Linked DNA regions of Homo sapiens: region 1 is linked to region 2. Evidence: fine-mapped expression QTL. A gene starts in region 2. The other region holds a variant in brackets. All regions are shown on one strand. Distances are between the middles of the regions. Region 1 overlaps ABCC8 (ATP binding cassette subfamily C member 8). Region 2 holds the start of ABCC8 (ATP binding cassette subfamily C member 8).

Region 1 (10,377 bases), 55 kb before region 2:
CAGCGTTCCTGGCATTGACTCGGAGCAGCGGTGAGGCTGGCTGGGCATCAGGAGCATTTTATAGTTGGAAAACTAAATCCCAGAGAGGGAAAGTGAGAGGACACAATCATTTCTTATAGTGTTTTCCAAACTGTGGATAGGGACCCAATCATTGGGTCTGGAATAAGTAGGCGGCAAGTGCATTTGAGGAAAAAGAAAAAAAAAGAATAGATGGAATCAGTGTGTACTGCACGTGGTACTGTATTTTTCGTGATTTTTTCTCTTGTTTATAAATGCATAAATATAGTGGACTGTAATGTCAAATGCTTTTCATACTGTGGATTTTGATAACTTAAAAAACACTGAGTGAGGTGACTTGAATTGTGATGCCAATTTTGCCAGTGCTCTATCCCCTCCCCCAGGATACCTCTCAACCTTCCAGAAGCAGCCCCTTGCCAATGAAATATATACTTCTGACATGAACATTTGGGGGAAAAAATCTGCTTTATTTTCATACAGATCTTACTTTAATAATACTAACAACAGCTAAAATTTATTGAACTTTTATAAGCACCATAGTAGTATTTTCTCTCTCTCTCTCTCTCTCAGACAGGGTTTCACTCCTGTTGCCCAGGCTGGAGTACAATGGCGTGATCTTGGCTCACTGCAACCTCCACCTCCTGGGCTCAAGCGATCCTCCTGCCTTAGCCTCCTGAGTAGATGGGATTACAGGCACGTACCACCATGCCTGACTAATTTTTGTATATTTTTTGTAGAGACAGGAGTCTCATTCCCTATGTTGCCCAGGCTGGTCTCCAACTCCTGGGCTCAAGCGATCCTCCAGCTTTGGCCTCCTAAAGTGCTGGGATTACTGGCAGTGAGCCACCGTGCTCAGCCAGTATTGTCTCTTTATAAAGCTCAAAATAACCATATGAAGGAGGTTTATTCTGATCGCCCTCACTTTACAGATAAAGAAAGTGAGGCTCAGAGAAAGGCTAAGTAACTTGCCCAAAGTCACACAGCTAGTAAGTAGCGGAGAAAATAGCTCCGACTCCAACGTTCATACTCTTAAATGCCATGGTACATTACTCCCCTGTGATTTCCCATGCCATAACTCTGATAAATGCCCCTTGTCAGGAGAACCAGGATGGACGAAATCAAGGATGGAAATGAGCCTGATGAAATCCCCCTCCTGCTGAGGGTCAGGACTGAATGAAGATTCTGATGGGTATGTAGTCCCCAGTCCCCTCTTTTCCTGTTCTCTAATCTTCGTGGTCTCATTTCATTCTCTTAACCAAACTTCATATTCCCTAACCATCAGATGGCTGTAATTTACAATTTATAGACAAGCTGGTAACATGAGACATAGAAACCTAAAGCTTACAAATTCCAGCTCTGTGGCCACAGCCCAGATAAGCTTATCTCTGGAGTCTTCCTGATGTGACTACTTCCAGAGTAGCAGAGGTGGTTATTGATGCATCTGTGGCATTCCTGAGGACCCCAGCACACAGTAAGCTCTCCAGGCCCTAACTCAGTTTGCAACATGGTCTGCACTGCTCAATTAGCCCTCATAATGGACTGCCTTCCTCTCTGATCAGCTCCCGTGTAATTTGTTCATCCCCAGTGGAATTTTAAGGCAGGAAGAACATCTTTTTCAGCCCCCATGGTGCTTAGCACATGACAGAGCTATATAATGAATGGAGGCTGGTAACAGATATATTAATCATTTGGAAAGAAGAAAGGGCGGGGCTGGCTCTCATTGCTGACCTTCACTGTGCACTGTGAGAAGTTGTTTGCAAACAACTCATCATCTCATCCTTACAACCCTATAAACCCTATCCCCATTTTACACATGAGGATACTGAGACTCAGAGTTTGCAAATGTGACAGAGCTGGGAAGAGGGGAAGCTGGGGTGTGAATCCAAGTTCTTCTCTTTCCAGTGTAGCCCCAAGCCTCCTCCAGTGAGCCTCCCCAAACTTTGTATCTGTTTTAAGCTGAAAAGTAAAGAATGGTATGTCTGGCAGGCACCATCTCTCACTCATTGCTGTGGTCTTTACAAGAGTGCTGAGGGGATTCGATTCCTCCTCTGCCTGCACTCTAGGGAGGAAGCACACAGCTGAAAGCATGAGTCTTCCAGTTCCCCAACCGCATGTCCTTCCCTCCAGCCCACTAGGAGCTGGCATATGTGTGGCAACCTGAATCAGGGTGCAGAGGCTGCCTTCCAGGGGCTCACACTCTGGTAGGGCAAATCAGAAAGGTACCGAAGTCAGGAAGTTATAAGGGTCAAAAGAAAAGTAGGACAAAGTATCGGAGAACTTTTGGGGAAAAGTAAACACAAATGCATATGCAAATGCATAAAGAAAAACTGGAAGCTTCTGGGTGATGGGATATTAGGTGGTTTTTATCTTCTGTATGCTTGTGTATCTTTTCTAATGTAATGTGCATTCTTTTAGAATCAGAGAAAAAACATAATTTTTACAAGAAATTTGGAGGAGGAAGAAATCTGAGAAAATGAGTAGAGCCTCATAGAAGAAGTCATAGCTGAACTGAACCTTAAAGAGTGGGAAGGATTGAGACGGTGGAGGTGAAGGGAGGGAACTGCAGGTTAAAGGAAGAGGCAGCATATGATAACAGGTGCGAGAAGTAGGAAAAATATGGGCTCTGACATTTGAATCCCAGAGGCTTTTCCACTCATTGGCTGTGAAATCTGAGGCAAGCTCCTTTACTTGGAGGAGCCTCTGTTTCCTGATCTATAAAATGGGGGTGAAGGCACAAACCTCACAGTGACACTGGAGAATGTATTACAGCTCACAGCTGGTTAGGGGGCAGGTTGTAGGCTTGGAGAACTAGGAGGAATTGTCTTTTCAGCTCAGTGCTTGGCCCCAAAAGTACAGGCAGAGGGAGAATCAGATACCCCCAACACTCATTTAAGACCCCGGCAATAAATAAAAAGGGAAGAAGTGGAAACTGAGGTTCAAAGAGTGAGCTAGGATATACAGGGCTCCACAGCCCATTCATCCTGCCCAGACAGGCTTGTCGCTGTCCTGAAAGGTTACCTTTCACCCACAGCATCCTTTCCAATTGATGTCATTGGGTCCCATTGCCAAATCTCTGAGACAGGAAAGGTAGGGTTTTACTCATTGTCCAGACAGTGAGTCTGTCTCAGAGAGGTGAAGTAACCTGCTCAAGGTCACAGAGCTAGCAAGTGGCAGCATCAGGACTACAGCCAGGGGCCATCTGGTTCCCATGGCTGGACAGTCACTTCCTCAGAGCATCCCTTCTCCTGTCTGTCAGCTGTCTCACCACACCTGCCTCCTCCAGGAAACCCAGGGGCACTTGAGCCCCTGACTTCAGCTCCCCAAAGGCTCCAGGAATTGTACAGGCAGATGCGACCAGGGCCGTCCTGAGAGAAGCCTTTTTCTCTCTTCCTGGGGAATCAGGGCTCTTGGCAGGCAGCATCCACACCAACCACCACAGGCAACAGCATTGCAGCAGGGAGCTCCAGTGAGACTGCATGTGCAGCTCCTCACAGGGAAGTGGGAGCCTCTTCCCCACGCTGATCCTTTCCTCAGGGCCCTGGTTCCTGCTGACCCCCCGGGGGCATTTAAAGTCACTCTACTGTGGATATTAATGGCTCTATTCTTTATTTCCAGGGAAAGAATTTCACCCGAGTGTATCTGCTAATCTTGACTTTTTACCAAAACATTTTCCTCTTAAGGATTAAAGAGAGAGTTTGCAAATCCCAAGGTTGTCACAGTTCCTTGAAGCAGAGAGCCAGGGAGGGGCAAGTGATTCTTCCTAAAGTGAATGCTTGGGAACCACACAGTTCTCTCTGAGACCAGGAGCCAGGCTGCTGACGTGAGGGACAAGCTCGGGGCTGCATCTGCAGGACTTCAGCAGATGGACCCTTTGTGCCCACCCTGCAGCTCTGTCTGCACACCTCTGTCCATCCTGGGTGGGTGAGCTCCCCAAGGGCAGGTGCTAGGCCTTTTCCTTTGTAGCCTACACAGAACAGTGCACAAAATACACATCTGCATGGGGCACCTGGGGTACAACATGGAATAATCCCTCAAGGAGCTCAGAGTCATGGAGGAGACAGACGCATTAGCAAATAATTATAATACCATGTGAGGTATGCACTAACGGTATTTGCTCATTCCAAATATTGATGGAGAAGAGGGGTAGTGAAATACTGGGTTAGGAAACAGCTCGGACAAAGGCATGTGGAAAGGAGAGAGATGTCAAGATGCATTATAATGGCAGCCTCTTGAAGGTCTTAAGTTGTTCCTGGTTCATTCATTTAGCAAGTGAATTCGTTTAGCAAAAAGCACTACGGATACAGTGAGACAAACAAAATATGGTCCCTGTCCCCAGGGAGCTCACAAGAATCTTTCCCAGGAGACAGACTGGAGGACATTTAAAGAGGAACAGGTGAATTTTGTTCCTGGCAAAGAAGTACACTATTGAATAATAATATTTATAGGATATTTACTACATGCTAGGTTAATCCTCACATCAATCTCATGGGTAATAAGGGAAACTGGTAGAGAAAGCTTATGAAATTTTCCAAAGCACAGAGACCAAATGTGAACCCAGGCAGCTTGGCTGCAGAGCCTGTGTGTGCAGCCATACTGCTCACGTGGTCACTGGAGGAATAAACGAATAGTTGCACCAACAAAGCACCCATCTCCCCAGAGCATTCTCCATTCTACACCTCCTAATCCCCCAACTTCCTGCCTTGTGCCTCCTGGAACTCCTTCTGGCTGCCTGGTCACCAGGTCTTGGCCTGGGTATGGCTGAAAAGCATCTGAGCAGCAGCCTGGCATCACCCTCTCCTCTGGCTGCAGGCGTGCAGACTTGGGAATGCTTGCCAGGTCAGAGGCTGTTTTGCTTTTAGCTCACTTTGCAAGCACGTCTTCTCCCTGCAGACCTGGGGCTCAATGTCTGAGGTGTGGAGTTCCTGCCAGTAATGGAGGGGGACTCTCAACACACAGCCCCCACACTTAACTCAATGCCCAGGATAGGTGGGCCAGCCAGAGCAGTGCACATGTCTAGATTTTGAGAGACAAACAGCAGATGAAGCTAATTGAGTCGTATCTGCCTAGACTCCTTCTCCTAGCCACTATAAGGAGCTGCAGACTGACCTTCCTTCCTGGAGTCTGTCTGTCTTTTCTTTTTCTCTCTCCCCAGTCCATCATCCTTTGTCATAAGCATGATCCTTCTGCAGCATTTGGGCTAAAACTTACTTCCTAGAGGTAAGCACTGTATCCATAGTGCTTTTGCTAAATGAATTCATTTGCGAAATGAGTGAACCAAAAACAACTTAAGATCTTCAAGAGGCTGCCATTAGAATGCATCTTGACATCTCTCATTTCCCCATGCATTTGCCCAAGCTGTTTCCTAACCCAGTACCTACCTCTCTTCTTGATCAATACTTGGAATGAGTGAATATTAATGCACACCTCACACTGTGTTATGATTATTTGCTAATACCTCCCTTCCTACAGTCTGTCTGTCTTTTTCTCTGTTTCCCCAATCCATCATCCTTTATCACAAGCATGGTTCTTTTGCAACCTTTGGGTTAAATCTTACTTCTCAGACCTACTACATGGGATCTAAGCCAAGTTCACTTCTTCAGTCCCATCTTTCATAATGCACCCCATGCATCCAGTGTTCCAGGTGCACAGAACTATGTTCTTTAATATCAGCAAGGCTTTGCCCACACCATCACCCCTGCCTGGACCACCTCCCTTTCCCATCCCTGCCTTTTCTACTTGATGAAACCACACTCATCCTTCAAGGCTCAAATACCACATCCGCAGTGAGCCTCCTCTCCTTGACTGCAGAGTCAATTGTGGTTCCTCTGAGCTCTTCTAAGGCCCAGGTCTTCTCTCCCCTCTCTTAAAAGCGGGGCCGGCCAGGGGTGGTGGCTCATGCCTGTAATCCCAGCACTTTGGGAGGCTGAGGCGGGCGGATCATGAGGTCAGGAGTTCGAGATTACCCTGGCCAACATAGTGAAACCCCGTCTCTACTAAAAATACAAAAAATTAGCCGGCATGGTGGTGTACACCTGTAGTCCCAGCTACTTGGGAGGCTGAAGCAGGAGAATCGCTTGAACCTAGGAGGCAGAGCTTGTGAGGAGCTGAGATCGCACCACTGCACTCCAGCCTGGGCAACAGGGCGAGACTCCGTCTCAAAAAAAAAAAAAAAAAAAAAAAGCAGGGGCCACGTCTTAGTCACCTTTGCACTCCTGTTGCTGTCACAGGGTCTAGTATACACTAGGCGCTCAACTGGGTGAGTGAATACGTCACTGTGGACGCTGGAGAATGAGTTGACTTGGGAACAAATTCTCATGATTTCCCAGGGTTGGCTGCAAGCTAACAAATGCACTTCACTATGCTTGAAAGGGAAGCTGGACCAGGACCGGGCGAGAGAGCAAAGAGGATCCTGGAGAAATGAGACCCCTTCACTACCGCCCCTCTGCGAGCCTCGAACAGAGCTGGGAGCTGGGGCCTAGGCTACCTGTAAAGGAGAGTAAGTGTTGATAAGGACAGAGCTGTGAGGACCCACGTGGCAGTTCTGGGAGGAGGCAGGTGTGTGTGAGTCATGGCCACAGCGGCTGCTGGCCTTTGGACTGTCAGGCTAGCTATGCCTTCTTCATGAGGCTCTTGTGCCCCTTCTCTTTGAGCACATGGTGGCAAACCAATGCACTTGAGCACCTAGGTGCAAATCCCACTTCTGCCATTTAACAGCTGGGTGGCCTTGGACAACTTGCTTCACCTCAGTTTCCTAATCTGATAAATGAGGATATAATAATATCTACTGCACAGAGTTCGGTGCAGACTGACTGAGATGATGAGGTGCCTGCACAGTGCCTGGCCTATAATAAGTGCTTAGGCAGGAACAGAAAACCAACCACCACATGTGCTCACTATAAGTGGGAGTTGAACAATGAGAACACGTGGACACAGGGAGGGGAACATCACATACCGAGCCTGTCGGGGGGTGGGAGGCAAGAGGAGGGAGAGCATTAGGA[C/A]AAATACCTAATACATGTGGGGCTTAAAAAGATGACAGGTTGATAGGTGCAGCAAAGCACCATGGCACATGTATAGCTATGTAACAAACCTGCACACTCTGCACATGTATCTCAGAACCTAAAATAAAATAAAAAATAATAAAAAAAAGAAGTGCTTAGGGTCCTCTGCCTTGGAGAGGCTCCTTGTGTTCCCTGGGCTGGGGCAGAGGTTTCCTAAGAGAGAGGGGCAGCAGTCAGACCCGGAGGGTTGGCACAGCTTGGAGAAGAGGTGGGGACTGAGGCAGGGCAGAGCAGACCCCTGCCAATCATGCCTGCTTCATCTACATAGGACAAGGAGAGCTCCTGAGGCAGGCACGATGCCACATGAGGGCATGAGGGTGGGGGAGGAGAAGAAAGCAGGGCAAAGGGACCAGGTTCAGAGTGGGTTTTGACATCCATGCTGAGCAGGTCAAGGCAGGGGCAGCTCCAGTGTCTGAGCCCTGCAATCCTTCTGGAAAAGCCCTGCCTTGGAGGAGAGCCCAGATCCAGCCTGACCACTACATGGGGCTTGGACAATAACCCTTAGGACTAGGCCCTGGGGGCCCCAGCAGTGACCAGGTTTGAGGGAAAGAACATGGGCAGAGTCTCTGCTCCACACACTGACTAGTAAGTCACCCAACTTCTCTGAGCCTGAGTTTCTGCTTCTGTGAAATGGGGTAACAACACTCCCCTCCTAAACTTAGTAGGAGGCTTGATGAGATCATGTTGACAATGCACTTAGCAAAGGGCATGGCCCATAGGAGGTACCCAATAAATATTGGTTACTTTCTTCAGCTCACAGTGCACTGGGGACTCTTGTCTTCTTGCTGCAGGCATGCAGTTGGACAGCAGAAAAGGGCTCCTCCCTCCAAAGGCTGGAGAGGCAGTCGGAATAAGGCAATATGATCTCAAACCGAATACCTGGGCCTTCCCAGTCAGGCTATGTTGAAAAATCTCCCAAATAAAATGGCGAATGGAGGCAAAGACCCCTCTGCCCCCAAAGACATCACAGTCCCTGATGGGAGGTGATGGGAAACCCAAGGGGCTCATCTGCTAGCCCACGACCCCACTGAGGAGGGAAATTTGCCATCTTTTGGATACACCATTCAGGGACATCTTGGAAATGCAGGAAACGGGGGTGCATGTTGATATTCAGACATTGGGCCCAAAGTCTTTCTCCCTGCTCAGTTCTGTACTCATGCTTATGAAAAACCTGACACCTTCAATAATTTTCCCCTAGAAATGATTGGTAGGGAAAGCTTGCCCTTCTGCTGATTGGCTGCAACTTTTATTCCTAAATGAATACTCCAAAGCCCAGAGATCCCTTTTTCCCTTGGCTACCAGAGGGCACAGAGCCAGGTTTTATGTTGATGGCTGTAGTTGTCCTCTGCCCAGGTTGCTGAACATCTTTTTACCCTCTTCATTTCTCAGTTCCTATTTTCTTACCTTTTTAAAGGGTTTTATTTTACATGCATCTTTTTTTATTATACTTCAAGTTCTGGGATATACGTGCAGAACGTGCAGGTTTGTTACATAGGTATACACATGCCATGGTGGTTTGCTGCACCCATCAACCCTTCATCTACATTAAGTATTTCTCCTAATGCTATCCCTCCCCTTGCCCCCCACCCCCAGACAGGCCCCAGTGTGTGATGTTCCCCTCCCTGTGTCCATGTGTTCTCATTGTTCAACTCCCACTTATGAGTGAGAACATGTGGTATTTGCTTTTCTGTTCCTGTGTGAGTTTGCTGAGAATGATAGTTTCCAGCTTCATCCATGTCCCTGCAAAGGACACGAACTCAACCTTTTTTATGTCTGCATAGTATTCCATGGTGTATATGTGCCACATTTTCTTTATCCAGTCTATCATTGATGGGCATTTGGGTTGTTTCCAAGTCTTTGCTATTGTGAATAGTGCTGCAATAAACATACGTCTGCATGTGTCTTTATAGTAGAATGATTTATAATCCTTTGGGTATATACCCAGTAATGGAATTGCTGGGTCAAATGGTATTTCTGGTTCTAGATCCTTGAGGAATCACCGCACTGTCTTCCACAATGGTTGAACTAATTTACACTCCCACCAACAGTGTAAAAGCGTTCCTATTTCTCCACATCCTCTCCAGCATTTGTTGTTTCCTGACTTTTTAACGATCACCATTCTAACGGGTGTGAGATGGTATCTCATTGTGGTTTTGATTTTTACATGAATCTTTCATCAACTAGTTTCAAGTGCTTCTTGGAAGTAGGTGGGTATAAATAACAGATTCGTGATTGACTGAGCCTGGGGTTCTGGCTCTTTAATTAAGACAGTGATCTTTGCCCAGAAACCAACATTTATTGGTTACATCTGGATCTTCAGAACACCCACTTATGGTGTGTAGGTCAGTGCAGCTCAGGACCAAGCTGGAAACCAATGTTGGTGTTGCAATTTCCCACACTGGGAAATTACTGCCGTGCATCTGAGTAACCATGGGATTCAGAGTCTGACAGAACTGAGTTTCAATTCCAGCTCTGCCACTTATTAGCTGTGTGAATTAGGACAAATAGTTTAACCTTCCTCTATAAATGAGAATTGAGAACAGTATGGACCTTGTTAGTTATCATAAAAATTAAATGAAATAATGCATGCAAAGGACTTAGCAAAGAACCTGCGCATAGTAAGAGGTGAATACGTACTAGTGATGATGATGAGAATATCCATTAGCAGCATTTATTGAGTCCTCACTGAACACAGAGTGGGCCCTCCAATAAATGTGTGTGCATCCTCAACTGAGGAGGATGGTTAAAAGGAGATTTCCCCTCCACTGGGCCCTGAGGATACATGTATTACCTGCTCCAGAAGACAGCCCCTGAGACCTTCTGCATCTCCCCCAGTGCGGCTAGAAGGAGCGAGGACTTGCCGCAGCCCACCTGCCCCACGATCATAGTCAGCTGGCCTGCAGGGAGGGAGGGTGGCAGATGTGAGTGGGGCCGGGGGAGTCTGAACAACCATTACCCAGAAAGACAGACAGACAGATGCACCCAACCCTGGGGCCCCTGTTTTCTTTCTTCCTACCTAGAATCCCCAGCAAGTCCTCTCCCTCTTTAATCCTTTCCTTCTGGAAATCAACATCCTCCTCTGGCTCCCCAGGTCCTTCCCCCTCTCTGATTTCCTGCCCCGCCACCCTTCCTAAGCACTCGCTTCTCCTTTCCCATGCTCCTAGTATGAGCCCAGGCTCCTTGTGGTCCCAAGAAACACCATCCTGGGTCCCACCTCCAACCCACCTCCATACTTTGCTCATGGCTGCCTCTGCCAGAAAATCCTCCTGCCTCATGGCCTCAGGGCCTTTGTCCATTCTCA
Region 2 (10,565 bases):
CCAGTGTATGGTGGTCTGGGAAAATATTGTAGTTATTAAAAAATATCTTCTTCACTAACTTATACTGTTTTGATTGTTCTGAATTCAGAACATCACAGAAAGAAATAATACCCAAAGGAAGAGGGGAAGCCCTACAGGTTTAAGATGGCTTAATTAGTCACTAAATGAGGCTCACTCTAAATCAAATCAGGGCTGCCTTAATCAGCCCCCTCCCACCTGCCCCCTAAATTTCCAGACAGCTCTGAAAACCCAGGCTGGATTAGACTGGAGGTATCACAAGGGTCTGTGACTTCTCCTGTCTGCTCTTTTCCTGCCCCTCACTCAGGCCTGGGGGTAGGAGCTCACAAAGACCAGATGACAATTACTCAGCTTGAGCTGATCTGTGCCCTGGGGAGGAGATGGCCCTTTGCACTGAGCTGAAGCAGTACAGCCACACACAGGAGGGGCTGCTGACAGCCAGCAGGAGGGCATCCCTGGACCGATTCATTCCAGTTTCCCACATTCTGGGAATACACAGTCTACCCAGTGCTCTGCCACTCCGGGCTCTGCACCCTGTCCATGCTCGAATTTCACCCTCCACAGCCCCATGAAGCAGGCAAGCCAGGGACTATGATGCTTGTTTCATAAGGCCAGAGAGCAGTCATGAATGGCCACACTGGGAACAGCCAACACCCTGCCCAGGGATCTTCAAAACTCTTGCCTCTTTACTCCTTGAAATAATTTTGAAACACCTTATACTTTCTCACACATTTTTAAGTTGGCAACTAAAATGTTTTATCGTATGTTTATAAATGCTTATGAGGCCCAGAAAGCCTGAATGACTTGTGCAAAGTCCCATAGCTGGTACACAGCAGCAGTGCTCACTGAAGACCCAGGTCTTCCTTCTCCAAGGGCGGAGGTGTCTTTCTCTGTCACCATCTGGTGAGTATTTCCCATCTGAGGGCTCACTGTGGCATTTGTGCTACTTTGGAAGGGGTGTAGGGGTGGGGGTGGAGGCGGACTTGTCACGTGCTTGTGTAGCAGTATGCCTTCTGGTCTTCTTGCTGGTCTAGGGACTTTAATAAGCAGGCAGAGCTGCTGCCTCCAAGTCAAGCAGGTATTTTAGAGATCACTGCTGAAGCCAGGATGCAGGGACATTGGGGAAGGGAAGGTGGGGAACGGGAGGGAGGATGAGGGAGCCTATCCCCTGCCATCCAACTACAGGAGCCAGGCAGCACTGCAGGAGTGCAGTCTGGGTATAATCTGATTCCAGCTCAGGGGGCGCTGGACCTCAGATACTCAAGCCAAATATCCCTCTCCTCCACCACTCCCTCTCCTGGCAGTCTCTCATCCTTGCTGGTTACTGGATTCTTCCTTAGTGAGATGGCTGCTCCCGCTCCTCTTCTGTCCCTGACTGCTGACACACCATTTCTGTCTGCAGTTATTGCTCACCTAGACTACTGCAGTCAATGCTAAGTCCTGCTTCTATTATACCTCTAGATTCTCCCTGCCTCCAGCCTGCGCTGAACACCTCAGGTTCCCACCTAAAAGTGTTATGCTGATGACATCTCTCTTCTGTTCCAAACTGCTGACCAAATCCGACCCAAACATGCAGGCTGGGATTCACAGTCCTCCTGAGATGCCCCAACCTGGGTTCCCAGCCTCAGCCTCCATCGCTCCCCAGCCTGTGTTTAATGCTCCAGCCCCTGCGCTGCTCCCTAGCCCTACCTGCTTTTCTCTTTGGTGCCTTTTCCCTTCCCTCAGGCACCACCAGTTCTCTCTCTCCTTCCTCCTCTGTGTGTCTGAAGCCTAGTCACCCTTCCAGACTCCGCTCCAAAGCCCTCTCAACCATGGAGCTTGCCCAATTCTGCCTTCCTCTCACCTCCCAGAGTACTTATTTGTAACATGGTTTCATTCATTCTCCTAAGGACCCAATAAATGTTTATGGACTGAATAATGTTTATGTTTATCACATGCCTTGCACTGTGAACACAAAGATGAACAAGACTCAGATTCTAACTCTTAGGCCTTTCTGACTCTGAAGACAGTTTTGCAAATAGACATAAACTTTAACATACAGTGTGATCTGTGCTGTAGCAGAGGTGTGAGGAGTGTGCTGTGAGGCCCAAACGGAAGGTGGGCATGGGGAATGAGGCCAGAGATAGGTGGGGCTGACTGTGAAGACCTTGAATGGTGGGCTGAGGATCTGAGACCACATCTTCAAAACAGCTGAGAACCAAGGAAAGGTCTTATGCAAGAGTGGGTGGCATGGTTAGATTTTTTTTTTTTTCCAAGAAGGTAACTCCGGCAGGTTGTAGAAGAGGCCAGACATTTTTCACTGGAGTTGTGGCATTCTAATAGGCTCTAGCATTATTTCACTGGGACTTGGCATGCAGGTCCGTGTTCCCTCTGCTCTCCTGGACTGATGGCAGGGCCTGGGACTCACTTGCGTCCAGTGCCCAGCTCAGAGAGGTTGGCACATAGAAGACACTGAGCTGCTGGATGTAGTAACAAAAGACATGGGCTTGTGGAATATAGGTGAGCTAGGATCTCCTTGGGCCTTTCAGGAAGTACCCTGGAGCAGATTCACTTTCCTGAGTCCTCAGACAGTCACTCACCCATCAGACAGGATGCCCTCTGCAATCTCACACACCAGGACGAAGAGCAGCATGAAGGTCAGGATCCACCGCAGGTTGTGCCCAGGGAAATGAAGCCATGTGCTGTGGTGGATGTGCACCTTGGAGCTCTGACTTCCCCATCCTGCAGGGAGAGACAGTCAGAGGCAGGATGCCTGCCCACTTGGAGGAGGAAGAGGGTGCATGAACCCCAGAAAGGTGCTTGGGCATTGGGTCCATGGTGAGGGTGACACCTACACATGAGGATCCCCAAGGCTGGTACACACAAACTAAACGTCCAACTCATTCAGCCTGGTCCTATGCTGGTACCTCCCCCACCACACCTTTTTACTGAGACAGGGTCTTGCTCTGTTGCCTCTGCTGGAGTGCAGTGCCACGATCACGGCTCACTACAGCCTTGATCTCCTAGGCTCAAGTGATCCTCCCGCCTCAGCCTCCTGAGTAGCTGGGACTACAGGCGCACATCACCATGCTCAGCTAATTTTTAATTTTTTGTAGAAAGGGCGGGGGGGGTCTCACTATGTTGCCCAGGCTGGTCTCGAACTCCTGGACTCAAGCAGTCTTCCTGTCACAGCCCACCAAAATGCTGAGATTACAGATGTAAGCCACTGTGCCCTGCCAAGGTACCCCATTATACATACTAACTTCTTGTGTGACAAGTCATCAGGTTAATAAACCGTTTGGCTGAGAACAGAAGTGTAAATGCTGTTCTTTTTTGATTTTTGATGCACATATGAGCACATATTTTGTATGTTTTATTTCTATTTCTATCTAACTGTCTTTGTTAATAACTAGCAACTCTGCTTCTGCAGCAACCTCTTGTAAATCTAATTTTGTGACAATCTTTCCTTTCTTCCCCAAAGCTGTATATGAATTTTAAGATTTGCTTGTTTTCTTAAAGTGAATGAACACGTTTTGGGGATGCAGGGGACACCCTATGAGTTGATAGACTTGACTGGTCTGGAAGAGTCAAGGTCTTGGAGAGAGATGGGGGGGACCTCAGTGGAGAGGCACGCACGATTGTCCCGGCCGTGGCGCCCAACTTTGCAAGCAAGGGCGCCGGGGTCGCTGCGTCGGCGAGTCGGAGCTACTTTGCGCAGAGCCTGAGAAGTTGCGCTCTGGAGACACATGCCCGGGTGGGGTGGCGGGGGAAGGGAATCCAAGTCCCTAGCTCTCGCCTCTCCTCGCCCAGGGCGCGGGCCTGGGACTGTCAGAGATCACGGACCACTGCGCGGCTCAGCCCGGTGAAAGCATAGGGGTTAGCTGGGCCTCCATCCCAGACTCCAAAGCACAGGCTTCCCTCTTCCCTAGGCCCAGCTGCGGCTGACAGGGAGGCTGCCTTGCGGGAGGGGTGACCCGGCTCCCTAAGCTGCGCCACGGAGGGTGAGGCCCGACCCCTCTCCAGTTTCCCACTGCGTGCTGAGACCTCCTCTTTCCCTTTTCCCCATCCCAGCTCTTGGCCCTGCAGAAGCAAAACTTGGTGATCCCATGGGTCACAAACGTCCGCTGTGTTTGGCGCGGGATCGGGGGCACCGGGGGAGTGAAGGGATGAGCTGGTGTGCGAGTGCGGGGACCGGCGGGCAGGACACAGGGCAGGGGACCCCGGGAACGAGGCGGACGGCGGTCGCGGGCCGGAAGGGGACGCCGAGCGGTGCGGCGCGCAGCGCCTCCTCCTCCCTCCCTGCTCTCCCGTCCCCTCCTCCGCGGCTCGCTGCGCGCACTCACCAATGAAGAGGATGGGGAAGGTGATGAAGAGTAGGAAGACGTGCGGCACCACGTTGAGCGCGTCCACAAAGCAGCCGTTGTTGAGGACCCCCTGGTCCACCCGGTAGGCGGCCGAGTGGTTCTCGCTGCCGCAGAAGGCCAGGGGCATGGCGGCGCGGGCGCGGGCTGGGCTCGGGCTCAGCTGGCTCCGCTGGCTCCGCGCGCCTGCCGCGCCTCTGTCCCTTGCAGCTCCGCCGCCCGGCCCGGCCGTCAGGCCCCCGCCCCCCGGGCCCCGCCCAGCCCCGCTGGCCTCCCCCTCCCTCACCCCGCCCTGCTCCACCACCTGCGGGGCCGGGGGGCGGCGAGGAACCCGACCGGCCCTGCTACGCTTGCGCCCACCTTCCAGATGTGGAGGCGCGTGCTCCCAGATGTTGCCGGGGTGGCTTCGTGAGTGCCCTGATGCACGCGTGCGCTGGGGGAGAGGGGAAAGGCAGGCTAAGATGGGGAGTGGGGTGTGGGCACACTGGAGTCTGGGTGGGAAAGGAGGGTGGGGCGTGCAGAAGAGGAGAGAAGGGCCCGCAAGGCCTGGAGTGGGCGGGTTCAGGGTCCCGAGTGTGAGTTCACCTGGGCGTGGTGCGGATGGATGTAGAGAGCCGAGGGATGGCGCAAGTCTCCACCCAACATGGATGAGAAAAGTGGGGCAGAACGTTACCTTGTGGTGGTGGTGGTGGTGGGGTGGGGCTTGGACATTTTCAAAAGTGGTCCCAGGTGGGGCACTCCTAGGTACTGCTTTACAGCGTATCTGGCACTTTCACACAAGGGATGTCCCAGAACTCTTGCTAAGTACAGGTTCTAATCGCTTCCAATTTTCTGATGGGGAAACCCAAGCTGCGAGGGAGCTGAAGGGAGGCCAGTAACATGACTTCCCCCAAGGTCTCAGTGCCAGCAAGCAGGGAAGCATAGCTTGAACCCAGCTCCTCAGGTCCCCCGTCCCCACCCCCATCATTTGTACTCATGCCTCTGGTACATGACAACCTTACAGCGACTGGCAGACCAATGGGTAGAATGGGTGACAGCCCCAGGCTGATAAAGAGGAGTTTAAGAAACGCATCTGGCCAGATGGATGTGAGGCAGTGGAGAGGGACTGAAATTCTTAACCTCACCTGGGACAGGCTTAACAGTTGGAGGACACCGTGCAATTGTAAAGACAACATTATGTCTTCCTATACGTTTTGGAGAGATTCTCACAAGACTGTGGCCCAAAGAAGTTTATATTGTATGTAGAAAGAACAGAAGATGGGATTTGGGGGTTAGATTTAAGGAGAACTTTCCTAGTTAGGGTATGAAGCATAAATGCACATGTTCTTAGGAACAGTCAGGGGAACACAAAAGAAAGACCCCTTCAGCCCCTTTGCCTACAAGCTTCACTGAGCCTGCCCTGAGGCTGCTGAGCCTGGTGAGCCTCTCCAGCACGCTGTCAGCAAGGCCGAGGCTCTGCCCAGGCCCTGAGGCAGAGGGCAGATGGGGTTGGGTGAAAAGCCTTGGGAAAGCAGGAGTTCAGGGTCTGAATGCCTCAGTCTCTGACTTTGGAGAATTTCTCAGAAGCCAAAAGATGTTTCTTGCAGCATCAGCCAAAATAGTGAAAACTTGGTGGCAAGAAATATCCAGCACCAGGGACAGGGGTTAATCAACCTTGAAAAATGCAACTGCTGGGACGGTGCTAGCTGAGTCTGTGTAGTCAATAGAAAAACTTTACAAGATAGTGTCAGGTGAAAAACGGCAAACAAAATTGTGCTTCCCATGATTATAGCCGTACGAAATATGTATACTTGCATGAAGCCTGCAGGGAAAGGTCAGACTTGGAAATTTGGTAAGGCGGTGCTCAGTATGTACTGGCTGCCGTCGCTGTGCTTATCCTCATTCCCTTTCTTTAAAAATGAGACAACTGAGGTTCAGAGAGATGAGATGACAGGTCCATGGTCACCCAGTAAGATTTTTTCTTTTAGTTTGTTTTTCTTGCTTTCAAGGTTTTTTTTTTTCATATTTTCTGCAATGTTGTTATTTTCTTTTGTAGTTACAATTTCAGTTTTTTCACACTTTCAGCAATGCTATCTTTCTTTTTAGCAGTAATAATATATTTACTTTTAAAGAACAGGGCTCCTAGTCCTGGCTCTACTACTACTAGTTGTGTGATTTGGGGGCAGGTTACCATTCTGCACTTCAGTTTCCTTATTTCTAAATGGAAAAGATAATAATATGGAACCCAGAAGATTAAGATGAGATCATGGGTATGAATGTGCTTTGCAAGTTGGGGAGATAGTCCAAGCTACTTCATCCCATGGGTGACTACACACGGCAGCCCCTTGATCAATCAGGGTTATTTAATGGTCTCTCCCTCACCCCACATTGCCTGGTGCAACCCTCACACTTGCCTATTCTGGGTCATTTGAAACAAACAAAAAGTCTGGTGTTAAGGGAGCATCAACTGGGACTAAGAGAGTGTTAAGTCTGGAGTCTTGGGGACTCGTGTTTGCCATCTCTAGCACAAACTTACTGTGTGACTGTGGACAAATTCCACCTTTCCCTGCACCTAGGTCTACACTGAGGACATGCACCACACTGCCCACCATGTGGGTGGGAGAATTACTTTGAAAAAGTGTGGAGTCAGGTGCGCACGGAGGCATGAAAGGACTTCCTTTGTAGTATATGGGTTGTATTCCTGGAATCAACCCAAATGCTCATCAGTATGGGGCTGGTTCAAACAGACAAAACCCAAACAGACAAAAAACAGATATTGTCTGTACTGTGGGATACTGTGGAGCAAGCGCAGAGAATAGAGTTATGCTTACTGGCAGGGGAAGATGTCCAAGACACAGACGCAGAGCGGTGTGTGGCATACAAAATCATTCATGTCTGTAACAGGGCTACGTCTGCCTCTGTCGGGGAGATGCTGGGTCTCTGGTGCTTCCCCACCTCTAGCCATGCCTTTTGTTTCTCTTGCTAGGGGCTGGAAGAAGGTCAGACTCTGAGAGCTTGCTTTGAGCAAGGGTACCCCGCTCTGAGAATTCCCAGCCATTCTCCTGGCAAAATGAAAACTAGGGCTGGATTTCCGGGATTGGATTCTCACACTCACCGGCTACTGGGTGGGTGTGGCCTCAGGCAGGGTGCAGTAAAGGGGCTGGTGCAGAGCTTCAGAAAAGTCCTTTCCAGATCCCTTGAGCCAGGGAGGTTAAGGCTGCCGTGAGCCATGATCGGGCCACTGCACTCCAGCCTGGGCGACAGAGAGAGACCCTGTCTCAAAACAAAACAAAACAAAACAAACAAACAAAAAGTCCCTTCCAGCTCTGATGTTGTTCTGGCCTTAGTGCCTTTGTCTCTATCTGGCTGACTAGGAGTGCCAGTGTTCCAGTGACCATGGCAGAGGGGGTCATTACAATGACAATGGTGACGTAATGGAGTGGGGTTATAGTTGAAGAAATAAACCCTTTCAATAACCACAATCAACAGCGGCCTGGTTAAAAACAGACAAAAGCAAAACTCATGGTGTGACCTATACTATGGAATAGTGGAGAACAAGTACAGAGCCTAAGTTCGGGTGACCCTTACTGACTGGGAAAGGTGTGTCCTTTCCTGTCTCCTTCAGGTGCTCAAAGCCTGTATCCACAGGGGAACTTGGAAGACTGTAGAACCAGTGAAAGAGAGGACTGATGTAGAGACAAAATGTCTTAACTGGAACCTGGGAGGGAGAAGTGATCTCCTGTCTCATCTCCATCCTGCCCCATGTCAGGAGGAGGGAAGTAGAGAGAGAAGTTCTTTTGAGAGGGAGCCTGTGCCCAGCCTCCCTGCCTGTCTGTTGTAGAGGTGGCTGGGGGACAGCCACCCAGAAAGGGCAGGTTGTGTGTAGACTGTGTTAGAAAATCCATACAAGGGCTTTTTAGGTTTTTAAGATTATTTTTTTTTTCCTGTAGAGATGGAGGTATTACTGTTTTGCCCAGGCTGGTCACAAACTCCTGGCGTCAAGGGATCCCCCCCGCCCCCTAACCTTGGCCTCTGAAAGTGTTGGGATTACAGGTGTGAGCCACTGTGCCTGGCTCACATACAAGGGCTGTTTTGAAGAAAGGTGTTCTTGTCCCAGGGCAGGGCCTCTAGACAACAGAGGCAGGGGACCCTCAGCCATACTTGAATGGCGAGGGTGAGGCAGGAACAAGACGAACTCTCCCCGGTCTCTTGGCATCACGTAACTGGAGAGGTGGGGAAGGAAATCCAAGAAGGCCCAAGGCTAATGTTTTCTGCCAGTCTAGTGGGATGGGGACTTGATACAGAAATTAAATAACATTCTTGCTCTTGCCCACTTAAGTTTTGGTCCAAGATCCCCCTCACGACAGTAACACAATGCAGAAGGGTAACTCCTACGGATGGCCTGGTTGCTCTATACCCTTGAGGCCACTTAAGGTCAAACTCAGCATCTCCTTGCATCCTCTAAAACAGCCAACACCCAGTCCATTGGTTTAAAAAAATGAAAGCTTTACTGAGCTCTTTACAGAGAGCTAGAAAAGTTGTAATTCACACAACTCACAGCAGAAACTTAGTAAACCCCCGTATTTCTCCTGTACCCCCAGTGGTCTTCTCCTTTGTGTGTATCTCATATCTCCTCTTCCTTTCTTCCACACGGTGTCTTTTTTAAAAAACATGCCCATTGTGACCCAGAGCAAGTCAATATTTGCCTTCAGCTTGCTTACCCACTTAGGACTTCTCTAGCAAGTCTTGCTCCCTTCCCAAGCTGCTGGTCATCCCCAAACCTGCTCTCTTCCTGGGAAGATTACTGAGGATAAGATTTTCTCCTTTTTGTTTCACCAATAGTTGTTGAGTGCTTAGTATATGCCAACCACTTTACGTGTTTTAAATCTCACAGTAACCCTGCCTAGTAGTTACAACTATCGGAGAACTGAGACTCAGAGAGGTTAAGCCCCATTCCCTAGTGACACAGCTGGAGGAGTTGGTGAAGAAAAGACCCAAACTCAGTGAGGCCTGGCTTCAAAGCCTGTGCTGTTAACCACTTCCCAAAGGGATCCTGGGGGTATCGAGGATTTTTCTGCTTCTGAGACTTTGGCTCCTGAGGAAGGAGCGCAAGGCCCAAAGAACAGACCTTTGGGGAAACCTGTGTATCTGTGCCTTTTGCCTTTTCTCTGTGTTAGAACCCGAAAGAAAGGCCTAGTTCTGTCACTGTTATCAGTCGGGGGTCAGATGGGAAGATTCGAGGGTGATGGGGCCCTGCTCCCTGGGGCCTTATACCCGTGGGTGAAACAGGTACACAAATGACCCTGCAGTGATTTGCTTTGGAGACAGCTGCCACTGCTGATGGAAGGAAATGTGTGTGAACAGCACGGCGACAGCTCTGGGTCTGGCCCAATGCTGTGGAATCCCATAAGGTGTGCTGGCTGAACCCGCTCCCTGCTCAGGGCCACAGTGTTGCAGACTGTCTCTCAGAGTTCAGCCAAAGAGGACTCTGCTCTCTGGCCCAGCCAGGACCTTGACAGATGCCTCTGGCTGGCACAGCATGGCCTCAGCTGTCTGGGCCTGGAGGGTCCTGCTAGAGCTGGGGCCGAGGCCAAGTGATGCGAGGGCACTGCTCAATAACTTCCCATTTCCTGTATGTTCCTCTCTTCTCCCCAGAGGGACTTCAGCTCCTATCCCCTGAGCAGAGCTTGCCTAAAACCAAACTCTGTGGTGGGGAAGTTTAGGTCCTGGCATTACCCCTGACCAGCTGTGTGACCTTGGGCCAGTCAACCTCCCTAAGCCTCAGCTGTCAAATAGGAAGAATAACCTCTCTTTTATGGGTTGTGTGTGTGAGAAAGCCTGGCACAAAGGAGACACTCGAGTCAAGCTTTTCCACTTTCAGGTCAGCCGAGGGCTTCTTGTCTGAAATCCCAAGATGGTCACTGATATTTATTTTTATTTTTGTTTTTTTAATAATTGATTGAGTTCCTACCTAGTGCCAAGTCTTTTATTACATTTTCTGGCTTAGTCACCATCTCTCTTTAAAGCAGGTAGTATGATTGCTATTACCAAGTTGAGAATAAGGCAGAGAGAAAACCTTGGTTGACCAAGGTCATCCAGCAAAGAAGGTGTCAGAGTCCGGGTTCCTACTGGGGCAGCCTTCTGAGATACAGGGATGGGCTTAGGCAGGGGTGGGATAGATGAAGAAGGCGAAAACGGGAGTGGAAGCTATCCCTTTGGAAGGGGGTG

What was found.
Region 1: its variant is fine-mapped to the expression of ABCC8 in nucleus accumbens (GTEx, PIP above 0.99). The same link has a PIP of 0.9 or more in caudate and putamen.

Annotation. Positions count from the first base shown.
Region 1 is chr11:17,417,182-17,427,558 of GRCh38, forward strand. It overlaps ABCC8 (ATP binding cassette subfamily C member 8), which reads right to left. Exons shown (of 39, transcript NM_000352.6): 16 at 9,868-9,973. Among named protein-coding and RNA genes, the nearest start is that of KCNJ11, 34 kb to the left of the region's middle. The variant C/A (reference allele first, on the strand shown) is at 7,017.
Region 2 is chr11:17,472,289-17,482,853 of GRCh38, forward strand. ABCC8 (ATP binding cassette subfamily C member 8) reads right to left here and starts at 4,557. Exons shown (of 39, transcript NM_000352.6): 1 at 4,341-4,557; 2 at 2,598-2,739. The coding sequence starts at 4,488. LOC124902641 (a long non-coding RNA gene) reads left to right here and starts at 4,363. Exons shown (of 2, transcript XR_007062609.1): 1 at 4,363-4,443. RefSeq lists an enhancer at 3,213-3,769.